Homo sapiens: one gene and its partners. The protein of the gene in region 2 purifies or fractionates together with the protein of the main gene of each other region. This does not show direct contact. Each region holds a gene or a part of one and is shown on either strand. Other genes may lie near its edges.

Evidence for each region.
Region 1: the proteins of NINL (region 2) and DYNC1I2 purify together in Homo sapiens (affinity purification with mass spectrometry, with the first as the bait; one large-scale study listed by BioGRID). This does not show direct contact.
Region 3: the proteins of NINL (region 2) and IQGAP3 purify together in Homo sapiens (affinity purification with mass spectrometry, with the first as the bait; one large-scale study listed by BioGRID). This does not show direct contact.
Region 4: the proteins of NINL (region 2) and PASK purify together in Homo sapiens (affinity purification with mass spectrometry, with the first as the bait; one large-scale study listed by BioGRID). This does not show direct contact.
Region 5: the proteins of NINL (region 2) and TKT purify together in Homo sapiens (affinity purification with mass spectrometry, with the first as the bait; one large-scale study listed by BioGRID). This does not show direct contact.
Region 6: the proteins of NINL (region 2) and CAMK2D purify together in Homo sapiens (affinity purification with mass spectrometry, with the first as the bait; one large-scale study listed by BioGRID). This does not show direct contact.
Region 7: the proteins of NINL (region 2) and SMC2 purify together in Homo sapiens (affinity purification with mass spectrometry, with the first as the bait; one large-scale study listed by BioGRID). This does not show direct contact.

What each region holds. Positions count from the first base shown.
Region 1 is NC_000002.12:171,746,469-171,750,658, forward strand, and holds the end of DYNC1I2 (cytoplasmic dynein 1 intermediate chain 2), read left to right. Parts: intron 1-1,307; coding exon 1,308-1,421; 3' UTR 1,422-3,690; downstream 3,691-4,190. UniProt on the Homo sapiens protein: Acts as one of several non-catalytic accessory components of the cytoplasmic dynein 1 complex that are thought to be involved in linking dynein to cargos and to adapter proteins that regulate dynein function.
Region 2 is NC_000020.11:25,470,532-25,474,031, forward strand, and holds part of NINL (ninein-like protein), read right to left. Parts: intron 1-3,500. UniProt on the Homo sapiens protein: Involved in the microtubule organization in interphase cells. Overexpression induces the fragmentation of the Golgi, and causes lysosomes to disperse toward the cell periphery; it also interferes with mitotic spindle assembly.
Region 3 is NC_000001.11:156,562,566-156,566,065, reverse strand, and holds part of IQGAP3 (ras GTPase-activating-like protein IQGAP3), read left to right. Parts: coding exon 1-39; intron 40-633; exon of another isoform or gene 634-730; intron 731-1,374; coding exon 1,375-1,451; intron 1,452-2,241; coding exon 2,242-2,309; intron 2,310-2,399; coding exon 2,400-2,513; intron 2,514-2,753; coding exon 2,754-2,932; intron 2,933-3,400; coding exon 3,401-3,479; intron 3,480-3,500.
Region 4 is NC_000002.12:241,139,473-241,142,972, forward strand, and holds part of PASK (PAS domain-containing serine/threonine-protein kinase), read right to left. Parts: coding exon 3,365-3,500; intron 1,282-3,364; coding exon 1,049-1,281; intron 584-1,048; coding exon 413-583; intron 1-412. UniProt on the Homo sapiens protein: Serine/threonine-protein kinase involved in energy homeostasis and protein translation. Phosphorylates EEF1A1, GYS1, PDX1 and RPS6.
Region 5 is NC_000003.12:53,239,023-53,242,522, reverse strand, and holds part of TKT (transketolase), read left to right. Parts: intron 1-280; coding exon 281-398; intron 399-1,277; coding exon 1,278-1,391; intron 1,392-2,174; coding exon 2,175-2,272; intron 2,273-3,500. UniProt on the Homo sapiens protein: Catalyzes the transfer of a two-carbon ketol group from a ketose donor to an aldose acceptor, via a covalent intermediate with the cofactor thiamine pyrophosphate.
Region 6 is NC_000004.12:113,517,239-113,520,738, reverse strand, and holds part of CAMK2D (calcium/calmodulin-dependent protein kinase type II subunit delta), read left to right. Parts: intron 1-3,081; coding exon 3,082-3,176; intron 3,177-3,500. UniProt on the Homo sapiens protein: Calcium/calmodulin-dependent protein kinase involved in the regulation of Ca(2+) homeostatis and excitation-contraction coupling (ECC) in heart by targeting ion channels, transporters and accessory proteins involved in Ca(2+) influx into the myocyte, Ca(2+) release from the sarcoplasmic reticulum (SR), SR Ca(2+) uptake and Na(+) and K(+) channel transport.
Region 7 is NC_000009.12:104,100,809-104,104,308, forward strand, and holds part of SMC2 (structural maintenance of chromosomes protein 2), read left to right. Parts: intron 1-1,151; coding exon 1,152-1,385; intron 1,386-1,615; coding exon 1,616-1,765; intron 1,766-3,500. UniProt on the Homo sapiens protein: Central component of the condensin complex, a complex required for conversion of interphase chromatin into mitotic-like condense chromosomes.

The DNA of each region.
Region 1 (4,190 bases), on a different chromosome or scaffold from region 2:
TCCTCTTTTTTAACCCTGGCTAGGGGTTAAAAAAGTGACCTTAGTCACTTTCCTTTGCTATGCCTCATGATTTCTCTCCTCTCTGGATATCCCATGGCCTCTAGCAATTGGATCTGGTGGGAGGTAGATTTAATCATTTACAGCAGCCAATTAAACTATCTGCACAAATGGAAATGTTCTGTACCTGCACTAATATGGTAGCTTCTAGCCACATATGGCTATTGAACACTCTAAGTGTTGCTACTACAACTGCGTAACTGAATTTTTAATTTTAATTAATTTTAATATACACAGTCACATGTGGCCAGTAGCTACCCTACTGGATAGTGTAGATTTATAAACAGGCACAGCCATTTGCCACAGTGAGTGGTTTGTGCCCTAACATGACAGTGTCAGACTCCTATGATATTATAATGGCAGTTATCAAAAATATTTGTTATTGGGGCCGGGCGCAGTGGCTCACACCTGTAATCCCAGCACTTTGGGAGGATGAGGCGGGTGGATCACCTGAGGTCAGGAGTTCGAGACCAGCCTGGCCAACATGGCAAAACCCCATCTCTACTGAAAATACAAAAATTAGCCAGGCATGGTGGCACATACCTGTAATCCCAGCTACTGGGGAGGCTGAGGCAGGAGAATCACTTGAACCTGGGAGGCAGAGGTTACAGTGAGCCAAGATAGTGCCACTGCACTCCAGCCTGGGCAACAGAGTGGGACTGTCTCAAAAAAAAAAAAAAATTATATATATATATATATATATATATGTTATTGGGCTGCCTCTGAAGTAAAGCATCACAAGGCTCTTTTGCCACCAGTGCAGCACTAAAGTGGTAAATAGTAGCACAGCTTTTGATGAAGGAGTTAAGGTATCAAGAAAGATTACCTTATGTTCCAAAGAAAAATACTTACAAGAAACGAGCCCCCTTATGAACCATGCTTCAAACACTGTTTCTTACTAGGAATTTTGCAAGAATACAGTAAAAAAAAAATTTTAAGGAATTCCTCTCCAGCAAAATCCATGAGATGGTGCATAGGAGTTATATTTACAAAGCATCATTGTTATTCTCTCTTGCATTGGTGGTGATAATAGCCAAGTCATTTCTGAGGCTGTCACAACACACTTCACAAACACCGTCTTTTGTTTTGAAATGTTGTAAATCATTGTTATAGTCCCCGTAATTATGGAAAGGCCATTCAGGTCAATTATTACTTTTTAACAGAAAAATTATTTGAAAACAAACTGAATAATAGTGGGTAAAATGATCTTTTATTTCATTGTATATAAAACATTGTCTTTCTTTTAACAGCAGATTGCTGTTCCCCGCAATGATGAATGGGCACGGTTTGGCCGAACACTTGCAGAAATTAATGCAAACCGAGCTGATGCAGAGGAGGAAGCAGCTACCCGAATACCTGCTTAGTTCCTGAAAAGGGGAGTGTAACTAGTGGATTTGGGAAAGGTTCTTAAGTAGATCCTGAGACTATTTGCATGCTTCTGTCTAAATGATAATTAAAAGGAAATTTCATGGATTAAACCATGGGTTTAATGCAGCAAGGAAACTTACAATGTCCCTTTATATATAACATGCATCTTGTTTTGGATTTGTGTCATTTTTTAATATAGCTGATTGACTTCACAGAAAGCAGCTTTTTTGAATTCTAATACATAGGTGTATATTTGGTATTAGTTATTTTGAGTTCTTTTCAACTTATAACACTGTATACAGTTATTTCTAAAGCACAGATGAAATAAGTTCTGCATATTTTTAAATAATCACAGTTCCCTGTTATACAGATAATGTTCTCACTACCCATAATATGTAGGAACATTGTTTCTCCTTAGCCGTAGTATGCATACACCTATCCATGTTCATTCTGACATCCTTTGTTGTCTTTATAATTCATGTGGTAGTTACCTATAAATAAAAACAAATATGCGTTAACTTTTCAAATTTTCATTTTTACTCCTTACAACTTGAATTTTTCCATCTTTTATAAAATATATTTTTTCCATATCTTTCTTTAAGCTCCTGCTGTGAGCAGCCATCTCAAATCCTATAGAGCTGTGTACCCTAAATATACCATGTGGTATATACTATAGATCTCCCAGTGCATTATGAATTGATGTCTAGATAATCTGTTGGTGAAAAAATTTCCCCTAGGTTAACTTTTGCTTTACTACTTTATATTCTTTCCATCTAAGACATATTTCCTTTAAAGGATAAATAGAAAGCTGCCTATAATTTTCACTGATTAAGAACTATGTATGTGACCTCACTGAGAGTAAAATCTTTGAGAGAAATTGATTTCATGATTTCAGTAGCCATAAAGGCAAAGTGCTCAAATGGACCCATACTTTGGCATTAAAATCTACATCTTGAGATCTGTTGCCACAGCATTGTCTACAAGTCCGAAAGGTAGGTGACAAATATCTAAGAATCAGTATTGAAATCAGTGAATTTCAGGAATAGAGGAAAGGACTATGATCAGATCTTGATTTTATCTACTTTAAATTGTCTATTTATTTGATCCCAACCTTTTGTACTTCTGAAGTGTAACTGTCTTTTATTCAACAGAACATGAACTAGGAAGAGAGATTAGAAAACAGAATGTGAACATTTTTCTTTTAATAATTGTAACAAAGATTTGTTGGGAGAGAAATTTCCAAATAATGAGTAGTGTATAGTGTAAGGAATAATTGACCTGGAATTATTGGCCCCAAACTCTGATTCTTGCTGAAGCATCTATGAGAAGTGTGATTTTAGCCAAGTCTGTGCCGCATTCTTTATATGTAGGAATTAAGTTTTGATTTAATGATTTCTGAATTTTCTTTCAGCTCTACTCAATTAAGGGGTATCAGTATGTGAAATGGAATATAGAAAAGTAGGCAATTCTTTACTTTTCTATATTCAGTTTCATAAATTAATACCCCATAATTGCCCATTATATACCAAAGACAATATCTCAAGTTATCTCATTGTAGCAGTGTCTGTGAGTCAAAACTTCAATTTTAGTAGAGTCACACTTTCTTTATATAGAAAAATTCATGTACTCACTACTCATGTAGTTACTGTATCTTTACCTTCAGTTTGTAAAAATGACTAAAAGTAGGGAAAACAAGTGTTAAAACATAATGGATAAGAAAAGGTTGGAAATCATATGGCAAATCACATGTTCCTCAGCCTCAAGGTGTGTTTAGTTGTGAAAGAAAGAATAAAATTGTTTAAATATTTCACTTTTTGGGAATGACTTCTCCCCTACTCCCCCAGAAAATGCGATGTATACCTTTGCCCATTCAACTTTAGTCCATATTTTTAGGAACACACAAATTTACTTTAAGGAATTACCTTTAAAGTTGACTATATAATAGCAAAAGAGAAAGTATTGAGACTGTCAGTGTTGATAAAGCTTCTAGCAAGATTAGGTTGACTAGAAGTGCATCACAGTTCTTTATACTTTTAGAACTAAAAGCCTTATAATTTTGAAAAATATCCAGTTACAGAAATTGTACCTTATCAGTTATACTTTTTTTCTGAGTAAGAAAACAAGCTATAGCTTTCTGGTTAATTTCTTATTTTTCGTTGTTTGGTTTTTGTCTTTTTGAGTGGAACGTTAAAGTTTATTACCTTCATGTTAAGGAATATCCAGCTTCACAGACAATTAACTTGCAATAAATCTCTGAAATAATCATTTTTTGGTATTATTTAAACCAAATATGCATTGGTAGAAGCTTTCTTCCTGTTTACAGATCCAGCTCCCTATAAAGTTTAGAAAATCTCTTTGTATAAAATGTTGTTACAATAATGCTGAAATACTGCATCTCAAAGGAATGGATGACTTAAAATTTAGTGGGAGGAACTATAGGAAAGTCGTTTTAGGAATGATTGGTCCTAGTCTTTCAGTGTTGTTAAAATGTTTTAGTCTGTTCTGTACTAGTGTGGATAGACTAATATCCACCCCTTGAACCATACAGAAAGACTTGAATGGATGAGTGAAAATCTGCTGTGAAGCATATCATACTATCTTTGCTTTATATTGAGTAGTGCATTACTTTTAAGTCAGAAAGCCAGTAGGTTTTTTTGTTTGTTTGTTTTTCCCTAAAGCGCTGCCATAAATTTCAGTGGTCACCTGCCACTCACTGGGCGGTGTATTTTTAAATGTCTTTTCCACAACCCCAGTATTTCAACATT
Region 2 (3,500 bases):
TATGGGAAACCTCTGCTAGGTGAATCTCAAAGTGGGAAAAGGCAGGGATAGACAGCCACTATGTGAACCAAGTCTGCCTGGGCCGTCTTTGTTCTCTGACAACTCAGGGAGTCCCTGCTTGGGTAATGCCATTGATTTGATAGATGAAGATGGCAATTTACCAATGAAGATCACTAATGGGAGCCAGGAGTGGCGGCATGCATCTGTAATCCCAGCTACTGGGGAGGCTGAGGCAGGAAGACTGCTTGAGCCCAGGAGTTTGAGACCCTCCTGGGCAACATAGTGAGACCTTGTCTGTGAAAAAACAAAAAAGATCACCAGTGAAGTAGCTTAAGACCCATACTTGCTACCCAGAGAATGCATTCTTAATACTGACTGGTAAGGCTAACGTGTATTCCCCAAATAGGTCTCCATATGGTACTAGCTTCTTATTTTTTCAGTCTGAAAATACTGAAAGCCACATGATCTCACCATGTTCACTTCATGTATTTTTTTGTTTTTTCTTTGAGATGGGGTCTCATTCTGTCACCCAGGCTGGAGTACTGTGGCACGATCATGGCTCACTGCAGCCTTGAACTCCCAGGCCCAGGAGCTGGGACTACAGTAGGCATGCGCCACCACGCCTGGATAATTTTTGTTGTGGTGGAGATGGGGTCTCGATAGGTTGCCCAGGCTGGTCTCGAATTCCTGGTGATCCTCTCACCTAGGCCTCCCAAAGTGCTGGGATCACAGATGTGAGCCACCACGCCCAGCCCGCTTTATGTATTATACTTATAATAGTAAACATAAGTATCTTCTTCATATGCCTTCATTTTATCTCATGAGGAACTAAAGACAAAAATAAATAGTCACTGGAATTAAAGGCAGCAAAGGGTTTCAAGCAGGAGAGTTCTGTGTTTTTAAACTATCACTCTGGCTCTAGAATGGAGAACAAGTTGATGCAAGGCCGAAAGCTGAGGGGTGCCCTACCCCATCCCCCACATGACCACCAAACAACTAGATCCTGCGCAAAGCTGATCGCAACCTCTGTGACTGTCCTCATGGAAAGAAAAGAAAACCTGCAAGAATCTCCAAACAAAACAAAATCCTGGAAGCTGAAACCAACGCGTGAGCACTATGCAACACAAAGCTGGGGGGACCTTGCAACCAATGCCTATGTGTCAGCACTGCTATTAGCAGAATGGAGAAGCTGCACTGTGGACACCTGCACCAGACAGGGCCCTGGAAGGAGGTTCAGACAGTCCCAGATTAGCACCTTCTCACTTCTCTGCAAAAGCAATAGCATCCCATATAAGGCTCTTTATATTCCCAGAGATTAACATCAAGCAAATATGAGCTCACAATCAAAGATCACCATAACATACATGGAGCAAAGCCACCCATAAATGACAGCAGAAGCCAGAAGCCAGAATTCAATCCTCTAGAAACTGCAGGTATTGGACTTATTAGACACAAACTAAAAATAAGTGTTATGAAATGTTTACATAAATAAAAGACAGCAACAAACAATGAACAAGCAACAAGAAACTATTGACAATGATCAGACAGGACCAAACAGAATTTTTAGAAATGAACAAAAAGTCAATGTCAAAATAAAAACTCATGGGATGGTTTAAATAGCAGATTACACAGAGCTGAAAGAAAGAGATACTGACCTGGAACACATAGGTATGTAAAAAATACCCCAAATGTGATACAGACAGAAGATGGAAAATATAAAAGAGAGGTTGAGACATAAAGTGAAATGCTCTAACAGTCACATATCTAATTGAAGAAAATAGTGGGAGGAGAGGATATATATATATATATATATATATATATATATATATATATATACTTTTTTTTTGTTTTTGAGACGGAGTTTTGCTCTTGTTGCCCTGGCTGGAGTGCAATGGCGCGATCTTGGCTCACTGCAACCTCCGGAGAGGCAATATTTTAATAGTAATGGCTGAGAGATTTTCATGAGACACCAATGCAATCCATACATTCAACAGGGAAAATATTTCTTTTTTTTTTTTTTTTCCCTTTTGCTCTGCCGCCCAGGCTGGAGTGCAGTGGTGCAATCTCAGCTCACTGCAGCCTCAACCTCCCAGGCTCAAGTGATCCTCCCATCTAGCCTCCCAAATAGCTGGGACCAAAGGTGCGTGCCACCATGTGTGACTAATTTTTCTTAAGTTTTTGTAGAAAACAGTCTCCTTATGTTGCCCAGACTGATCTTGAACTCCTGGGCTCCCAGAGTCCTGGGATTATAGGTGTGAGCCACTGTGCCTGGCTGGGACAATGTTTTCTAAGTAGGATGAACAAAAAGAAAACTATGCCTATACCCACAACATAACAATCCCATTTCTAGGTACAGCCCAACATAATGCTCCAAAAGACAAATGCAAGAACGTTCAGTGCAGTTCCATTTGTGAGAGCCAAAAACTAGGAACTACCCAAATGCCCATCAACAGGAGAAAAGAATAAACTGTGGTATGTTCACACAACAGAATACCACACAGCAATGCAAATGTATGAACTACAGCAACAACACAGATCAATCGCACAACCAGGTTGAGCCAAGAAAGTCAGACACAGAAGAGTACACACTGCATGATTCCTCTCCATAAAGTACAAAAACAAGCAAACTGAATCTATGCTGTAAGAAGTGGTTACCCCGGGGACTCTGGTGAATTCCATCTCTTGTTCTGGGCGCTGGTAACACAGACGTGTTCAATTTGTTGACAATTCTCCTAATTGTACAAATATATACATTTTCTTATGTGTATCACACTTTAATAAAAAGTTAAAAAGAGGCTGGGCATGGTGGCTCACACCTGTAATTTCAAGGAGGATCCACTTTGGGAGGCTGAGGCAGAAGGATCGCTTGAGGCCAGGAGTTTGAGACCAGCCTGGGCAAAATAGTGAGAGACTATCTCTACAATGAATAAAATAAAATAAAATATAAAATAAAATAATAAAATAAATAAAATAAAATAAAATAAAATAAAATAAAATAAAACAAAGTGGCCAGGCCTGGTGGCTCAGGCCTTATGTAATCCCAGCACTTTGTGAGGATGAGGCAGGCAAATCACTTGAGGCCAGGAGTTCAAGACCAGCCTGGCCAACATGGTGAAACCCCGTCTGTAGTAAAAATACACACATACACACACACACACACACACACACACACACACACACACACACATCAGCTGGGCATGGTGGTGGGCACATGTAATCCCAGCTACTTGGGAGGCTGATGCAGGACAATTGCTTGAACTTGGGAGGCAAAGGTTGCAGTGAGCTGAGGTTGTACCACTGCACTCCAGTCTGGGCAACAGAGTGAGACTCCGTCTCAAAAAAATAAATAAATAAATAAATAAAAAGTTAAAAAGAAAGAAATGCACACAGCAAATAAAAACCACTAAAGATACAGGTCTCAGAAGTAACCAGAGCACAAAAGTCAGATACCTACTGTGGATGGCACAATACTGGCCTCTAACAGAGACTATGTGACATTA
Region 3 (3,500 bases), on a different chromosome or scaffold from region 2:
TTTTGGCTATCTGCAATAGCCCACATCGGTCTGCCTTCGGTAATACTGGGCCTGAAGATTGGTATTCATCTTTACTCCTTACCAGCCACCTCCCACAATCCCATGCTTTATCTCCCTGGACCCTTTAGCCCTATTTCCATGTGTCTTCTAAACTAACTTAATCTAAGAGAACAGTTCCTTGCAGCTGTGTGTCTTTGAACCAGGTTATTTTTTTCTCTGCCTCCTCTTCCCTGTGGATGAAAGGAGGTGAAGTTTCCCTGGCCTGAGTGGCACGGTTCCCATTATGCAGGGGGTGGGAGGCTGCTATGTCATGCTCGTATTGGCCAGCCTTGTCTCCACCAAATTTCACAGTGTGAAGCAAGGGTATACACATCCCTAGGTGGCAGACTTTGAGTTAGAAGCCTAGGTCCAAAACCCCAACTGGACACATGATTTCACTCTTTGAACCTCAATTTGTTACTCATCTGTAAAATGGGGATAGTGAGCCCTGCCCTGTCTACCTTACAGTGTTGTCAGGAAGATCACATGGTCTGTGTGAACTCCCTTTGTGAACTGTGAAGAGCTATACAAATGAAGGCATGATAGGATTCTACAATGTATGGTTTCTTTCTGCTTTGTTTTTCTTCCCTGTAGAAAGGCACTATAAGACAGGAAACAGCAGTAAAGACACTTCGATGGGAGGCAGAAGCAATAGAGGTCATGTGTCTTCAGTGGGACTGGAACACTCTAGGTCTCTAAATTTGGTCTTTTATTGTGAATCTAAATATAACCAAGATATATTGAGGTTAGGCCTCATTACAGTTGTCAGGTGGCATTGAGAAGCCATACCTGGTGCCACTCGGTTCTTAGAAGGGCTCTCATTGATCAGAAGCCGCTGGCTTGGAGACAGGGATAACAGCCTGACACTTTTGTGGTCCTTGGCAATATATGCTTCATTGGGCCCTGCATGGGAGTAGGCCAGCTCTCCAGCATACCACATCTCTGGCAAGGGTCTAAGGTGAGGCATGCAGGCTCACTATAGACATCTGGAAGACAACTGGGGGCCTGGTTTTTTGTTGTTGTTGCTGTTATTGTTTTTGGAGGATATGGCTTATATCCTGTAGCCTTGATGGCCTTATCTGGTGTTTGGTTAATCCAGGGCACCCTAGGACTATGTGTCTGTGGCTGAGCCTTGGCTTAGTATGCATCCTCAGTGAATTTCTTTTATACTAGGCTGACTAGAAATGGTTGGGGGAGACTGACCTAGACACCCCAGGTAACAAGGGAACACACACCTCAGGTTGGAGAGGAAGACCCATTCCTCGGCACCCCCTCTCCGCATTTGGTGGTGCTTAAAGGTTCCCAATGGCAGTAACTGGCTGGTTTCTCCTCTAGACCTTCTTCCCAGAGACCACGGACATCTATGACAAAAAGAACATGCCCCGGGTAGTCTACTGCATCCATGCTCTCAGGTGAGAGACCTCAAATTTTATCATCCAGGTTCCTCTAGGTGGATGCGACCAACAATCAACAACAACAAACTCAGCAAGAAAGAAGGATGAAGGGTAGACCACAGGGAGCACTGCTCAGGAGAGTGAGGTTTCAGATTTACAGAGTTGTGTTTAGATTTTTGTGCATGTCTGTGGGCACATTTATGTATGGCCTGTGTGGGTGAAGGGGAAGGGCAGGCAGGGTACCAGAGATAGGAAAGTAGCAGGGTAGGGCCTTCAGTTTGTAACTGGGTATAAAGGAATCAGAACAGGACCTATTGAGAGCAACACAGGCAAGACACTTAGTATGGATGGTGTAGGCTCTTTGGTCCTACTTACAGCCAGCCATCAGCAACCAGTTGGCTAAATCACAGCAAGTGACCGACCGGTTCCTTGTGTTTACCATGCCATCTCTTTCTGACCACTTCCCATGTCCCTTTGTGCCCCTGTGCCTTAGCTCAGCAGGTATCTGCTTGCTGCGCCCTTCCTGTCCTCTCTCTCCATTGAGTGACCTGCTACTGCAATGTGGCCTTCTCTGTGAAGCCTTCCTAATCCCCTCAGACCCCCAACACCATCTTATTTACCTTCTGCAGCACTTTCCTTGGGCTGATTTATGGTCATATTTCTTTATGTGGGTTGGGGATGACTTGAGGGCAGGTGCTGAGTGGTCTTCATCTCTAGGTCCCCATAGTATCCCCTTCAAACCCATCGTGGGCAGAGTGTCAAAATGAATAGGCCCCAGTGCCTTCCAATGCCTTCCGTTTTTTCCTAGTCTCTTCCTCTTCCGGCTGGGATTGGCCCCTCAGATACATGATCTATACGGGAAAGTGAAATTCACAGGTAAGCCCAGCTCCTTCCCTGACCACCACAGCCTGGGCAGGGTCTTGGGGGTTCTGGGCCTGATGAAGGGCACCTGTGGCATCATTGCAGCTGAGGAACTCAGCAACATGGCGTCCGAACTGGCCAAATATGGCCTCCAGCTGCCTGCCTTCAGCAAGATCGGGGGCATCTTGGCCAATGAGCTCTCGGTGGATGAGGCTGCAGGTAAGGACTAGGCTCTGCCCTGCCAGGAGTAGGCTCAATGCGTATGGGAGGGCTCCAAGCCTCACAGCCATTGGATGGGTTCTGGCCAGCTCTCATCCACAGATAGGGCCATCAGGCTACCTGGTTTGTCTGGCCCTTGAGGGTGGGAAAAAGGATGACATTAGAGTGGGCTGCTACTGGTTGCGCTCCAATCTGGGATTCACTCTGGCCTCCTGACCTTGTTTCCATGCCCTCTCCCAGTCCATGCAGCTGTTCTTGCCATCAATGAAGCAGTGGAGCGAGGGGTGGTGGAGGACACCCTGGCTGCCTTGCAGAATCCCAGTGCTCTTCTGGAGAATCTCCGAGAGCCTCTGGCAGCCGTCTACCAAGAGATGCTGGCCCAGGCCAAGATGGAGAAGGCAGCCAATGCCAGGAACCATGTAAGGAGTAGTCTTGGGTTGCAGGGACCGAAAAGTTGAGTGGCTGGAAAGTCTCAAGTGAAACCGGGACTCCTATCTGTCATGTCTCTAGTATCCAAAATTGCTTCTTAGAGAAACCATAATTTATCAGTGATTTTAGAGAAATAGGAAAGGAACTTGGAAGAATGATGAGAATTCCGAAGAGAAGACTGGAGAAGAGGTTCTTGGGGGATGATCTTCAGGGAAGCCTGAGAGGGGTGCTGGAATGTAGAACAGAATGAGATTGGACTGGAGGTTCCAAAGGTTGGTTTGGCTTAATTATGTCAGTGCCAAGTGTTTTAGACCCCACAATTCCTGAATTCTGAGCAGACTGAACTTTGGCCTTGGGAAGGTCCCCAGAAGAAGAAATAAGTGTAGCCAGGCAGGGAAGAGCAGGACAAGGAGATTAAATTGGGTTTCCCAGGTTCCCTTTCAATGGAGTTTTTGCAGGATGACAGAGAAAGCCAGGACATCTATGACCACTACCTAACTCAGGCTGAAATCCAGGGCAATATCAACCATGTCAACGGTAAGAGACCTCGAGCAGGAG
Region 4 (3,500 bases), on a different chromosome or scaffold from region 2:
CTTCCAGGCCAACACCCCCGCCCGCTCCCACAAACACCAAACAGAATGTAAAAATCAATAGACAATAAAACCATATTACTCTTGAGCATCTGATGTGCTGCCCGGCAGGACTGCAAAACATTAGTGAAGCTACAGCCCTCAGACAAAGCAAGGGCCACCCACGACACCTCCCAGGAGTCCAGCCACAGCCACAGTGTCCATTCCTGCGATGATTCGTTCTTAAAGGGCCCCCACCCCCACTGCAGCTGAAGCGGGGAAACGGCGCCTGGGATGACATTTTCAGCTGAAGAAGCTGAGATGTCCTGGTGCCACCCAACCCCCAGCAGAGCTCCTGGTAGGGAACACTGAGCTGTTCCTGCCACACACTGCTGGTCTTGAGGCCAGACTGAACGCTGCACCCGCATCCACTCACCACCGTGCCAAACACCACCGCAGCGTGGCCGTCGGCCTCCATGTGCTCCTCGCTGAGGGCCTCCACCACATCAGAATCTGACCTCAGAAAGAACTGCGTGAGCTTCTGGCCAATCAGGTCCTGGCTGCTGTACCCCAGGAGCCCGCAAGCTTTGTCGTTAGCAACCAGGATCTGAGGAATCACAAAGAGGAGCAAGGATGCAGACATCCCCAGCAGCTCCACCAGCTGCCCAGAACAGCCCAGGACGACCATGCAGAAGCCAGCCTTTTCCTGACAGACAGGGTCTCACTCTGTTGCCCAGGCTGGAGTGCAGTGGCGCAATCAGAGCTCACTGCAGCGGCGCAATCAGAGCTCACTGCAACCTTGAACTCCTGGGTTCAAGTGATCCTCCTGCCTCAGCCTCCCTGGTAGCTGGGACTACAGGTGTGTGCCACCGCACCTGGCTAATTTCTTTGTAGAGATGGGATCTTGCTATGTTGCCCAGGCTGGTCTTGAACTCCTGGGCTCAAGCAAACTTCCCACCTCCCGAAGTGCCCAAATGTTTTTCTAATTGCATTAAAACACACAAATCCCAGGTTTAAGGCACAAACCACAAATCCACATCTACACAGCTGGATCTAAAAGAGAAGCAAATACCTCTGTGGTCTTGGCATCCACCGTGAAGATGGCCTTGTTAGGGTTGCACACAGGGGCCGGAAGCAGAGGTGAGGACCACCCTGAGGACAGTCCCCGCAGCAGGGAGCAGCAGGACACACTGCCCCGCGGTTCGGACGGGTCCGTGTGCTCAGGGGCAGCAGGGCAGTGCAGTTTACTTGTACAAATATTCTGGGCAGCCAGTGATGATAGACAATAGGAGCTCCATCTGTCTTCTGAAAAGAGAAGCGAAGCGAAGCTTTAGACTTCACACAGCTGCCAGAGTCCACCTTCTGAAACAGGCAAAGCACACAGCCCTTGCCCTCAACTCCTGCAAAAAGATCTAAGGATTAAGTCAGTCTGCACAGCTAACACACACTCTCACTGCGTGTCTGAACATGGTCCCCAGAATCCACTTAGGCAACCACCAGGTCCACTCGGAAGCACAAACAGCATAAGATCAACACTTCTGTGTCTAAATTACACTCAAAGCCAGGCGTGCCTATAATCCCAGTTCTTTGGAAGGCTGAGGCAGGAAGGTTGCTTGAGTTCAGGAGTTCAAGACCAGCCTGGACAACACAGCGAGACCCTGTCCCTACTAAAAATAAAATTTGTAAAAATCAGTTGGGCATAGTGGCGTGCCCTTGCAGCCCCATCTACTCAGGAGGCTAAGGCAGGAGGATTGCCTGAGCCCAGGAGTTTGAGACTGCAGCGAGCTATGACTGCGCCACTGCACTCCAGCCTGAGCAACAGTCAGACCTTGTCCCAAAAAACAAAAAAGCTTAATTACACTCAAAGGTTCCTTCCTTCCCACCTTCTGTCCTCTGTCAGTCATTCCAAGACCCCATGGCCACTCCGGTGGCTGCCCCGTCACCTCCTCCTTGGAAGCGTTCCTACGATTCAAGAGCTCCTTGTGCAGCGTTCTCTCAGCAACGCCTCCAATGGCTCCCAAAACCCTCAGCCCCGTCATTCCTCAGGCCTCACCCTCCTCCCACACCACCCTCCTCGGGCACCTGGGCTCCCCCACCTCCCACCTCTCAGTGACCCTGGCTCCATCTCACCCATTCCTCGGTAGCTTTAAATACATCTAATTAGAAATGCACTGAAGACTCTCACACTCGCACCTCCAGCCTGGACCTCCCACGGCCCACTCGCCTGCTTCCCCATCTCTGGAGACACCAGATACATTCTTCCAGTGCTCAAAACCAAGCACTCAAGACCTGACCCTTCCATTTCTCTCCCATCCCCTCCCCTCCATGTCCTCCAGCCAGGACCCCTGACTTTCTCAGTGAGTGGCCTGACCCCGACCATTCTCTGAGGCTGGAAACCACGTGGCCATCCAGCCACTCTCGCCCCTGCTCTTCCCCAGACAGCAGTCACCAAGCGCAGCTCCTTCTCATGTCTCAAGGCCCTGTACCTCCGGCTCCCACCCCTGCTCCTCATGCAGCCACCAGAATGATGCTCCAAAAAAGGAACACACCTGTCAACACTCACTGAGAACATTCCTGATCAGCGCCTGGGTGAAGCCCACTCCCAAGGGCGCTGTGTGCCTCCCAGCCCACCCCTCCCTGCAGTATCCTGGGCACTCTCCACAGGGCCCTCCGCTCTACACCCTCAGACACTCCAGTGCACAAGCTCAGCTCCAACACCCTCCTACTCCAGTGTCGAAGTGCTCCTTGACCTGGAGACCAGACTCCCAGCCACCATTTCCCGCAGCTCTATGCCCCACTTCCCCATTTTCCAGGTCTACCCCAACTTCAAGCACACAGCCTGCTGTCTCCCCAAGTGCCTCCATCAGACAGCCCCTGAAAGGCAAGTGACGCTTCCTTCCTCACCATGGCCCAGTCCTTTGGGGTGCCTGGACAAAGGAGGCACCAACGGAATCTGGACATAGGAGGCACCAACAGACTTCTGCCCCATGATTCTTGGTCCACCAGCTAAACCGCGTTTAGCTCAGTAAACTGCACGAGCAAAGCTGCAATTCCCTAAGTAAAATAGCCTAACCTAGAACAGCGTTCTCACATACTCTAAAGTAAGAAATAACATTTTGTTGTAACTTGACCCTGAAATGTGAAGGTGAGTTCCACCTGCTGCCTGAAAAGAAGCGCCAGCTGCCTGGGAATCACAGCAGAGTAAAAGCAGCAGGAAGGGTCCTGCCGGAGTCATCTGCCAGCATGAGCCGAGCACTTAAACCACGAACTTTTCTCTGCAGGAATAGAGTGACTTCAATCCCTGGTGAGAGGGTTTCCATGAGAACACAGAGCAACTCCACATTTGTATTTCCACGCGCTAAGGCCTGCAGTGGTCGAAGGTCATTACCAGAGAGCGCTGTCCTGCTCTGGCAGAGTCTGGAAAGCCCATTCCTTCTGCTCAGGTGTCTGTGGGCTGAGGAAAACGACCTGCTGGGCTCAGCAGTGGTCTGTGCAGCTGGGCCCTCTGCTGACACTGGCAAGGG
Region 5 (3,500 bases), on a different chromosome or scaffold from region 2:
CCAGATATTTTCAGTTGCCGTGATTCTGAGGATCTGATGCCCCTGGAAAGGTACAACAGTCCCCAGCACCCACTAGCTGGCCCAGGCCCCAAACTGCCAGGAGTGGCCTTCTTGAGACCATGTGTCACCCTCCCAGGGAACAAGAGCTCGTGGCTGTCTGATAAGCCAGGCCTGTGTGACTCCTCAGGACATGCACCCCCAGGTCCCTGTACAGCTGAGCACAATAGCTCAGGAGTGCAGGGCCATGATGCCTGTGTCTGTCTTCTCTCCTGGGCCACAGCCACCCCACGTCATGCTGCAGCGCCGCAGAGATCATGGCTGTCCTCTTTTTCCACACCATGCGCTACAAGTCCCAGGACCCCCGGAATCCGCACAATGACCGCTTTGTGCTCTCCAAGGTAAGAGCCCAGCTGCCCACTGCCAGCCACACCTTGCCTGGGACTAGGGTCACACGGGCCCTGGAATGGTGAGTGGTCTTTGAGGAGACCTGGCTGGGCCCACCTCTCCCAGGTGCCTTCTCCCTGCTCGTCCTGGCCTCTCCCTCAGTGTCCTGCTCTGTGCTGACCCAGCTGGCTAAGGAATACAGGACTGAATTGATGGGTTGCTCTGCCATGGAGCCCAGGTACATAAACAACGCTTTAACTCAAAGAAATGGAGTAGGGGACTACGGAAACATCTGTTGTGTGTTCTGCCCAGTCTGGGTGTTGACAGGCAGGACTGGCATCTCGGTCTGGGTTGTGGCTCCCTACCTGCTCTATCTGTGTTGTGCCAGCGCTCCCGAGGCCACGGCTTGCCCCCTCGGGGTGGTGGTGTGCTGTAGCAGGGTTTTGGATGGGGACCCCCTGACCCCCCCCTTCTGGGTGGAATCACAGCCACAGATCCCTGAAATCCACCTGTGCTCAGGCCTGCCTCCGTGGCGTTTGGTCTCTCGGGCAGGCTTTAGAGCTTAGAAGTCTGTCCAAGTTGTTCCCATGCCACAAACCAGGGATTAGGGCAGCCGGCTGCCTGCTGGGGTTTTGGCTTCGTCCAGCCTCACAGCTGTGCCCCCTGCACCTGTCTTAGTGCCTGCCTGGCCTTGGCAGTGGGAACTTTGGGCTGAAAACCAAGAGGCTGAAGAGGGCTGAAAGGGGAGAAGTGGCCTTCACTTGCTTCCTCCCCTGAAATGGATGCTGCAGTTGGCCGGCTCGGCCGGGCCCCAGGGGTCAGTGTGAAGTAGGCACAGCCCGAAGTAGAACCGCTCCCCACCTGACCTCACCCCACCATCCATCTCCCGGCAGGGCCATGCAGCTCCCATCCTCTACGCGGTCTGGGCTGAAGCTGGTTTCCTGGCCGAGGCGGAGCTGCTGAACCTGAGGAAGATCAGCTCCGACTTGGACGGGCACCCGGTCCCGGTAAGTGCTCCTGCCAGAGCCTCCCATGCCTCTGCCTCCACTTCCTATTTCCCAGACATGTGGGACGGGGGTAGGGGGTGCCCACTGAGAAGCCAAAGGTGTTGAAAGGCGGAGGAGGGCATTGAGTTGAGGAAGGAAAGAAGCAGGTGTTTTGGGGACACGTATTCAACCCAAGCTGGTGCCAAAGGGGAAGGCCTTCTGAGGCCTCAGCCAGGGTGCTCTGGGATGACTTCAGGGAGGGCCTCTCCCCAAGCTACCCTTCTGCACTGGGCCTCCTTGGCTAGGTAGCTACAGCTTGGGAAGAGAGGGGACTCGATAAGGGAGTGGCTGCAGGATGCTGGCGAAACCCTGGGGAAGGGACCCAGTTTGTTCCTTGGGGTGCCATCTGGCATCCCTGCAAACGTTAAGACTTCATGGATTACCACAAAAACTGTCACATGGTCTGGGTCCCCACGAGGGGCAAATGTTCTGTCAATTTTTTCATGATTCTCTCTCCCAGCACTTTGTGAAGTGGGTGATGTGGGAACTGAGGCTCACAGAGGTTCAGTCCCTTGCCTGAGGCCTGAGGCCACATAGCTGGCTAGTGGGCAGGGCTGGGATTTGAACCTATAATTATAATTAGTTCATTAGGAGAAGAAGTCACATGCTAGGTAGAGGCCATCCTGGGGCCTGACCTTCTGCAGAGGAAGGGCTTGCTGGGCTGGGTGGGAGTGTGGCTCCCTAGGCGGGTGAGACCAGGATCCCTTCTCCTCTCAGATTAACGGTGGCCTTCTGTTATGACAGAAACAAGCTTTCACCGACGTGGCCACTGGCTCCCTGGGCCAGGGCCTCGGGGCCGCTTGTGGGATGGCCTACACCGGCAAATACTTCGACAAGGCCAGGTAACACACCTACTCCCCACCCCCAACCTGGGTAGTTTTGGGGAGTGGTCCTTGGGTGACCCACCCTTCACCATCGCCCCCAGACTCTTCCTCTTTCCTGGCTAGGGCAGAGTAATACATATGCGTGGCCTCTTTTGCTCTTTAAACATCCGCTATGGCTGGTGCCATGACCGGCCCCCTTTACAAATGAGGAAACACTCAGGAGTTAAGGGACCTGCCCTGGGTCCCTCAGCAGTGACTGGCAGGGCCAGGTTTGCACAGAGTGCGTGCTCTCAATCATGTGCTCTTCAGCCAGAGTGCTTAGGCTGAGGACTTCCTGTTTTGCCCCCAGCCCTGTGCCCAGACCCCAGAAGTCTCAGAAAGACCCACCCCCAGGCCCCTGTCTGACTAGGCACCAGGAGCCCAGGCCTGAGCCACTTGCCTTTATCTTGGTAAAGGGGAGGGTTGTATGTTCTGAGGGGTTCTGGGATACCTGTAAGCCACCTCCTATCAGCAGGGAAGAAACAAACATTTGAGAGATTGAGCCTTCAGAGGGTGGGTGATGAGCCTGACCAGAAAGGTGTGCTGCTCTAGCGCCCACCAGGTGATTTGTAGGAACGGCCCCCCAGGAAGGTTCTAGCCATAAGTTTGTCTGCGGTGGTCAGATATGGCCTGGGGGGATGAGGTTGTAAACTGTTAAGAATAATGGCTGGCTGAGGGAAGGATTGCTTGAGGCCAGGAGTTCCAGACCAGCCTAGGCAACAGAGCAAGACTCTCTCTACAAAAAATACAAAACTTAGCCAGGCATGGTGGTACACACCTGTAGTCCCAGCTACATAGGAGGCTGAGGTGGGAGGATCACTTGAGCCTAGGGCTTCAAGATTATAGCTATACATGATTGAGCCACTGCACCCTAGCCTGGGCTACAGAGCGAGACTCTGCCTCTTTAAAAAAAAAATTATTCTTTTTTTTAAAGAATAATCACTGTATTAGTCTGTTTCCACACTGCTGATAAAGGCATACCCAAGTCTGGGGAAGAAAAAGAGGTCTAATGGACTTACAGTTCCACATGGCTAGGGAGGCCTCACAGTCATGCTGGAAGGTAAGGAGGAACAAGTCACATCTTATGTGGAAGGCGCAGGCAAAGAGAGAGTTTGTGCAGGGAAACTCCCGTTTTTAAAACCATCAGATCTTGTGAGACTTATTCACCATCACGAGAACAGCATGGGGAAGACCTGTCCCCATGATT
Region 6 (3,500 bases), on a different chromosome or scaffold from region 2:
TTTTGCAACCCCAGTAAAATTATGTAGGCAGTAATCATAAAAGGCTGCTAGTGTCATGAGAGATACCCAACATTTGGAGGTCACATCATCACCCCTCAAGTGGTCTCGCAAAAAAAAGACTTCTTCATTGACTTTTAATGATTTTAGTACTTTAGGTATATGGGCAAAGAAAAAGAGCTAGTGATTTTTTCCTTTCTTTTTTCTCTGACATAGAAAAAAGGTAAAATTTAGGTTTATTAAAAAGATAAATTGGGCTTACTCATGAGGCAAGAACTCAATTAGAACAACAAACACTTTTATTTTATTTTATTTTATTTTTATTTTTGAGGCAGAGTCACAAGACTCTGTCACCTAGGCTGGTAGAATTCAGTGGCACGACCTTGGCTCACTGCAACCTCCACCTCCTGAGTTGAAGCGATTCTCCTGCCTCAGCCTCCCGAGTAGCTGAGACTAAAGGCATGTGCCACCATGCCCGGTTAATTTTTTTGTATTTTTAGTAGAGACAGGGTTTCACCATGTTGGCCAGGCTGGTCGTGATCACCTGACCTCAGGTGATTTGCCCGTTTTGGCCTCCCAAAGTGCTTGGATTACAGGTGTGAGCCACCACGCCCGGCCTAGAACAACAAACACTTTTAAAATAAGCATTTGTTTAGAGGACCTAGCTAAAGGAAAAAGTAGCTGCAAGGAACATTTAAGATAGGACCAAATGGACATCTTTGCTAGTATGTCAAGGTCTCTCAGTTAGACAACACAAAGTTTTAAATTTTATATTATCATTCCTACTAAAGTTCATAGATAAAGAAAAAGTGGCTGCAGGGAATGTTTAGAGCATCATTATGTCTGTCCTGCTTGTGGTTGAAACAGTTACTTAATCTCTCAGCCTGTTTCTTCATCTATAATATAATGCAGATAATAACAATATCTACCTCATAGCATTATACAAGGATTAAATGAGATAATGCATTAAAGCACACATAACTCTGAATAAATGTTATCTACAATAAAATTTATTAGTATTACATTATCCTTATGCCATGAGTCTCATACTTGTTCTATACATTCAGAAAATAGAACTACAAAATAGCATAACTCAGAAAGGTTTTAGATGCTTGTTTAATAATCAAGTTGAAGTAAACTTACAAAACGGTGTTTATTTAAATAGGCACTGACAATTTCACATCAGGCTAGTCAATAGCACCTATAATATGTTTTTTTTTTAAGTCTTTGGGCCTAAAAGTGTTTTTTTTAATCTTCACATTTATGCTATTATTTTATTTAAAGTACATGTTTTTGTAAACACTCCTCCATCAAACAGCTAAATTGTGGGCATCTATTACATATTGCCTGCTTTTCTCATGGAATGAGCCCTCTGTGAGCTTCCTCTTCCCAGAGAAGCACCACATCAACTGTCAACTGCAGACATAATTCATAAGGACAAACAGCCTATGTTGAGAATGCTAAATGTCTCAGTTGAGCCACTATTTCATAATTCTATAACAGCCTAATTCCAGATGTGTATTAGGAAAATGTTCATATTCAATGGAAACTATCACTATTACAAAGCAAATTTTCTTCTTAACCTCCTGGAACCTTATATAGCTGAGGGCTAAAACTACTCAGGTACAGCTTTTTTTCTACTTGCCTCCTGAGAACACAAAGAGAAACACTCATCATCATCATTACTATCATCATTTTCATTAGATGTATGGAAAAATTATTTTTATGTCATGAAGGTGAGGTACCAATATACTGTGGTTTTCTTCATGGTCTTTTTTTTTTCCTTAAGAATGTTGTTTAAAATTTTTTATCCTTGTATTGATTCACATGACTTAAAAAATCTGCTTATGAACTGTATCTTCCTGAAGCAGGCTATAAAATTCTAAGATGATTAAACCATTGCTTAAAAACCATTTCAGCTGCTACAGTGTCTATTGTATAAAGATGTCCAGACTGCTGGACAGGAGCAGGGATAGATCTCCTAGGTACAGAGACCAAGAGACCACCTTGGATAAGGGAAAAAATAAGTCTCAGGGTACACCTGGCAAAGTGTCACCTGTCTTACTCTTCTTCTCAGGTTTCCTAGGCTTAAGGAAACATAGCAAGAAAAAAGCAAACAGGAGAGGTCAGAGGAATGACTGCCTTCCTCCAGGATAATGAGCTAGGAAAGAAACCAAAGGCCTTAAGCAAGGCAATAAAATACGTGAAAAGTGGCAGGAGAGATATTTGATGACAGAGAAGACCACTGTATCAAAACAATCTCAGACATTTAGACTGCAGATATGATTTCAGGGAAATTTACAAACTGTGAATACAGAATTTTTTTAATTTTAAAAGTGAAATTAGATTTTGGTTAATTTATAAATAATTATGTTTGTGAAAAATTTTAGCAAATTTTATTACAGCCATGTGTTTATTGTTATTATTACTTTGAATTTTCTGTGGAATTTCTCCCTTCTCTCCCTTTTTCCTCTCCCATAATATATATTCTTCTGTAGTCTTGTTGGTTTAGTTGTTTGACTGAGAAGGCTTGAAGTATTTGAAGACTAAGATTACTGAAAAGAAAAGGGTTTTGTCTCTATGGGGTACCCACATTTGCAGGGACTATGGTTATTTAGAACGTGGATTTATAACCAGGACACCATCACTCAACAAAATGTCCCAATGACCATCAAAACAAGTATGAGGAAATAAAAAACATGCTTAGTTTTTAAACTTCAACCTCACAGTGACTAAAATCATAGTCTCTATATAGATAAGAATGCAGTAAGACCCTCTATAGACAAGAGTTCAGGGGGGCCAAAGAATGTTGCCCTAAATGAATGTTGCCCTGCCATGCCTCTTTAGAATTCTTTGATGCATGCATTGACTGACACATTGTCAGAGTTCTGGAGCATAGGAGGAGAAGCATTCACCCTCCAGAGACTGCTCTAGACTAGATCATAACACATCTTTCTGAAGTTTTCCTACAATCCAGTTTTCTCTGTTTTAACAACTACGGCTTAATATCATTGTGGATCAGCCACATTTAATTTACTGTTGTCTATATGACTTAAATTGTGTTAACATTATATTCTCCTCCAGGTGTCATTCTCTATATTCTACTTGTGGGGTATCCACCCTTCTGGGATGAAGACCAACACAGACTCTATCAGCAGATCAAGGCTGGAGCTTATGATGTATGTAATAACTATTTATATCACTTTAGATGAAGGTTTGTCTTTTGCCTGTTGACCAAGAGCCAGATCTTTTCATTTTTCTTTTAACCATAATTTTTACCACTTTCTCATATTATTTCCCTCTCTCTTAAGGAAAGGGAGAAAGAAATGCAGCATTTGTATCCAGTTTACGTTTCCTTTTAACTCACTGTCTCCTAAGATTGAAAGAAAAGCCATGTGAAGTCTCTGAGGAAGAACTTTGTCAAAATATTTGGACCTTAGTGCATTTTAAAAACATAAAAATTAAAATATTTCTGCTATAGAAATGATTATTGCCTGTTTAGT
Region 7 (3,500 bases), on a different chromosome or scaffold from region 2:
TAATTATTGCTATCAAGGTATTTTGTAAGCAAAAGGTATTGAAACAGAGGATTGGATTGTCTCTGTAATCTTTGCAGCTCCTGACTGTCAAAAGACATGGCACAATATGTCATCAAAAAATGCATTTATGAGCTACGTTTTCTTTTTCTTGAGACTAGTCTCACTGTCGCCCAGGCTGGAGTGCAGTGGTGTCATCACAGCTCACTGCAGCCTCCACCTCCCGGTCTCAAGGGATCCTCCCACCTTAGCCTTCTGAGTAGCTGGGACTACAGGTGCATGCCACCACACCCTGCTAGTTTATTTTTTTGTAGAGACAGGGTTTCTCATTGTTTCTCAGGCTGGTCTTGAACTCCTGGGCTCAAGTGATCCACCTGCCTCGGCCTCGCAAAGTGCTGGGATTACAGGAGTGAGCCACTGTGCCCAGCCAAACGACGTTTTTAAAGCTATCTCCTTTTAGGAATTTATTAAATGCTCATTGAAATTTGGTACTACTCAGAGCTGTCTTGTGAATCCATATAGTAGTATAAATTTTACTGGAAAAATTGTAATCTTGAAGATACCCTTTTTGTATGTATGATTTAGTAGAAAACACTAGATCAGGAATTTAAACTTAGGTCCTAGACTTCATTTTGCCACAATTGCTTTCTAAATCTAACAACATGGACAGATCATTTAATCATTCTGAATTTGTTTTTTATGTATAAATTAAGGATTTTAGTTATTACTTTGTCTGGTCCCAGTAGGTCCTTATGGGAGTCGTGTTTAGTAATGATGTAAGCGAGTGCTTGTAGTAGTGCTTCAAAGTATATTAGAGTAGGCATCTTGATACTACTACTACAGAATCCATGTAATAGTGTAACATGGTGGGTGTGTAAGCTTATGAACCTTATGTCCATATTTCTTTGTTAAGCTCAACTACCCAAGTGTGTGTTAGAAGAAATAGCCAAATAAGATTCACTAGAGATGGTAGAATGCTATCTAAAAGTCCTGACTTCTGATGTTACGTAAAGTTTCCTACAATTTAAAATGCTATAATTGTTTAATACAGGACAAAATCTATTATGTAATGAGAAATTTGTTTCATCTTGCATAATTGAATTTTTTTTTTAATACAATTTTGAGTTATTCTTTTTTTGTGATTTCTCTTTCAGGAAAGATCGTCCTACTTGGAGTACCAAAAAGTAATGAGAGAAATAGAACATTTGAGTCGTTTATATATTGCTTATCAGTTTTTGCTGGCTGAAGATACCAAAGTACGCTCAGCTGAGGAATTAAAAGAAATGCAAGATAAAGTTATAAAGCTTCAGGAAGAATTGTCTGAGAATGATAAAAAAATAAAAGCACTTAATCATGAAATAGAAGAATTGGAAAAAAGAAAAGATAAGGTCTGAACATATGTATAAGAATCGATAATATACTCTGTGAAAAACGTACTAAATTATATATAGTAACTATTTAGGATTCATTGGGCATTGTCTTCCGTATTGATTTGTTAATCTTATAGTAAGATAATGAAATAACTTATAAAAAAGTGTTTGATACAGAACTCATACAATAAAATGACAGCGTGAACAAATTTTACATAAGTGATTGAATTGACTGCATTTTGTTATAGGAAACTGGAGGTATACTTCGATCTTTAGAAGATGCTCTTGCAGAGGCTCAGCGAGTTAATACTAAATCTCAAAGCGCATTTGATCTCAAGAAGAAAAATCTGGCATGTGAGGAAAGCAAACGCAAAGAGCTGGAAAAAAATATGGTTGAGGTAAGTGAGCTTAATGTGCCACTAGTGCCACTTGTAGACAAGTATATAGTCTCATTAGTGTACATTTATCTATTCCATGAATATTTAGTGAGTGTCTTCTATAAGCTAAGTACAGTTGTTTGGGCTGTGGTTACAACTGGACCAAATGGTCAAAAATCCTTGCCTTGTGGACCTTCATTCCATTGGGGGAAATGATAATAAAGAAAATAAATAAAACATGTAACATGTTATAGAGTGATAACTGATGTGGAGAAAAAGCAGGGAAGGGGATTAGGAGTGTAGGGGAAAAAGAGTACAATTTGGGATTTTAAGTTGGATAGCCACTGAAGTAAGTGGAGAATAGGAAGAACGGGTTTGATAAGCTTAAGAAATACAGTATGAATATAATAGGCTTGAGGAGCCTGTTAGACATCTTGAGTAGTGATGTTGATTAGGTACTTAACTATATGAATATTGAATCCAGGCAAAAATACAGATTTGGAGGCATCATCAATGTATAGGTGTTATTTAAATCCATGAGACTAGATAAAATGATCAAGGCTGTAAGTTCATATAAGAAGGTTGGAGCCCTGGGATACTTTCAACGTTTGAATGTTAGGATAGTTCAACATTCAAAAGAGATTGAGTAGTGTGAGGAAAATTAGGCCAGTAAATTGTCCTGGAGTCCAGGTAAAAAAGATGTTTCAAGGAGAAGTGGCCATGAGTACCTGATTAGATTGTGTTCATACTCTCACAGAATGAAGGCAGAAAAAAGAAAAGTGAATATAGATAACTTTTTGAGAAGTTTTCTGAAAGAGGGATAAATAGGGAGGTAACTGGAGGGTAATACAGAAGAGAGTTTTTGGCTTGATTTGACATGGGATAAATAAATTCTATATTGACAGAAAAGATCCAGTAGAAAAGTCGTCATTTGTGATTCAGGAGAGAGAGATGGGAGAGTTGTTAAAATAGGGCCCCTTAGTAGCTGCAAGTAGGATAGGAACTAGTGTATAGAGGAGGTCGCCTTCGCGAGAACTAGGAATAGGTCATCCATGGTAACAGAAGAGTCAAGTATATAGTCTCACATGTAGGTAGATGAGTAGGTGTGTTTTTGGAGCTTATGGCATTTCTTTTGAGGGTGATTCTGTTGTCCCAGTGAAGGTATACATTTGCCTTTTCACTGAAAAAAAATTAACTTTGTGAAAATAATTTCTTTATACTGCCCTGTTAGATATTTTTGCAGAGAAATACATTGTTGAATTAAGAAACAGTGGAGGAAAATTTAGACAAAATTTTGAAGCGATATGAACGTGTTGTAGCAGTCTGTGTTGTGGCATCCAAGAACTGAAATCAATTCATCAATTACTTTTTTTTTTTAGGTGAGGTTTGTAAAGCTCTAAACATGTGGACCTGCCTTGTTTTGGGTTCATTTTTCTTTAGTCTTGTCATGTCCTTAAGCTTCACACACTGATTGCTCCTTTTTCATCCTTCTTTTCTGTATCCCCTTATTCTTCTAGATCTCTTAATGTTAGTATGCCCTAAGGCTAGCACTCTGATATCTTTTATAAACTCTCACGCCATAGGTGGTCTCATCCAGCTCTGTAACTCTAAATATCATCTATATGTTGATGCCCTCCAAATCTATAAGCAGGCTTAACTCCCTAAACTCTATGAAGCAGGTTTATTGTGTGCAGATTACCAACTTGTCTGAAGCCAGCAGACATAACACATTCATACACAACATTTTATGTGAAAT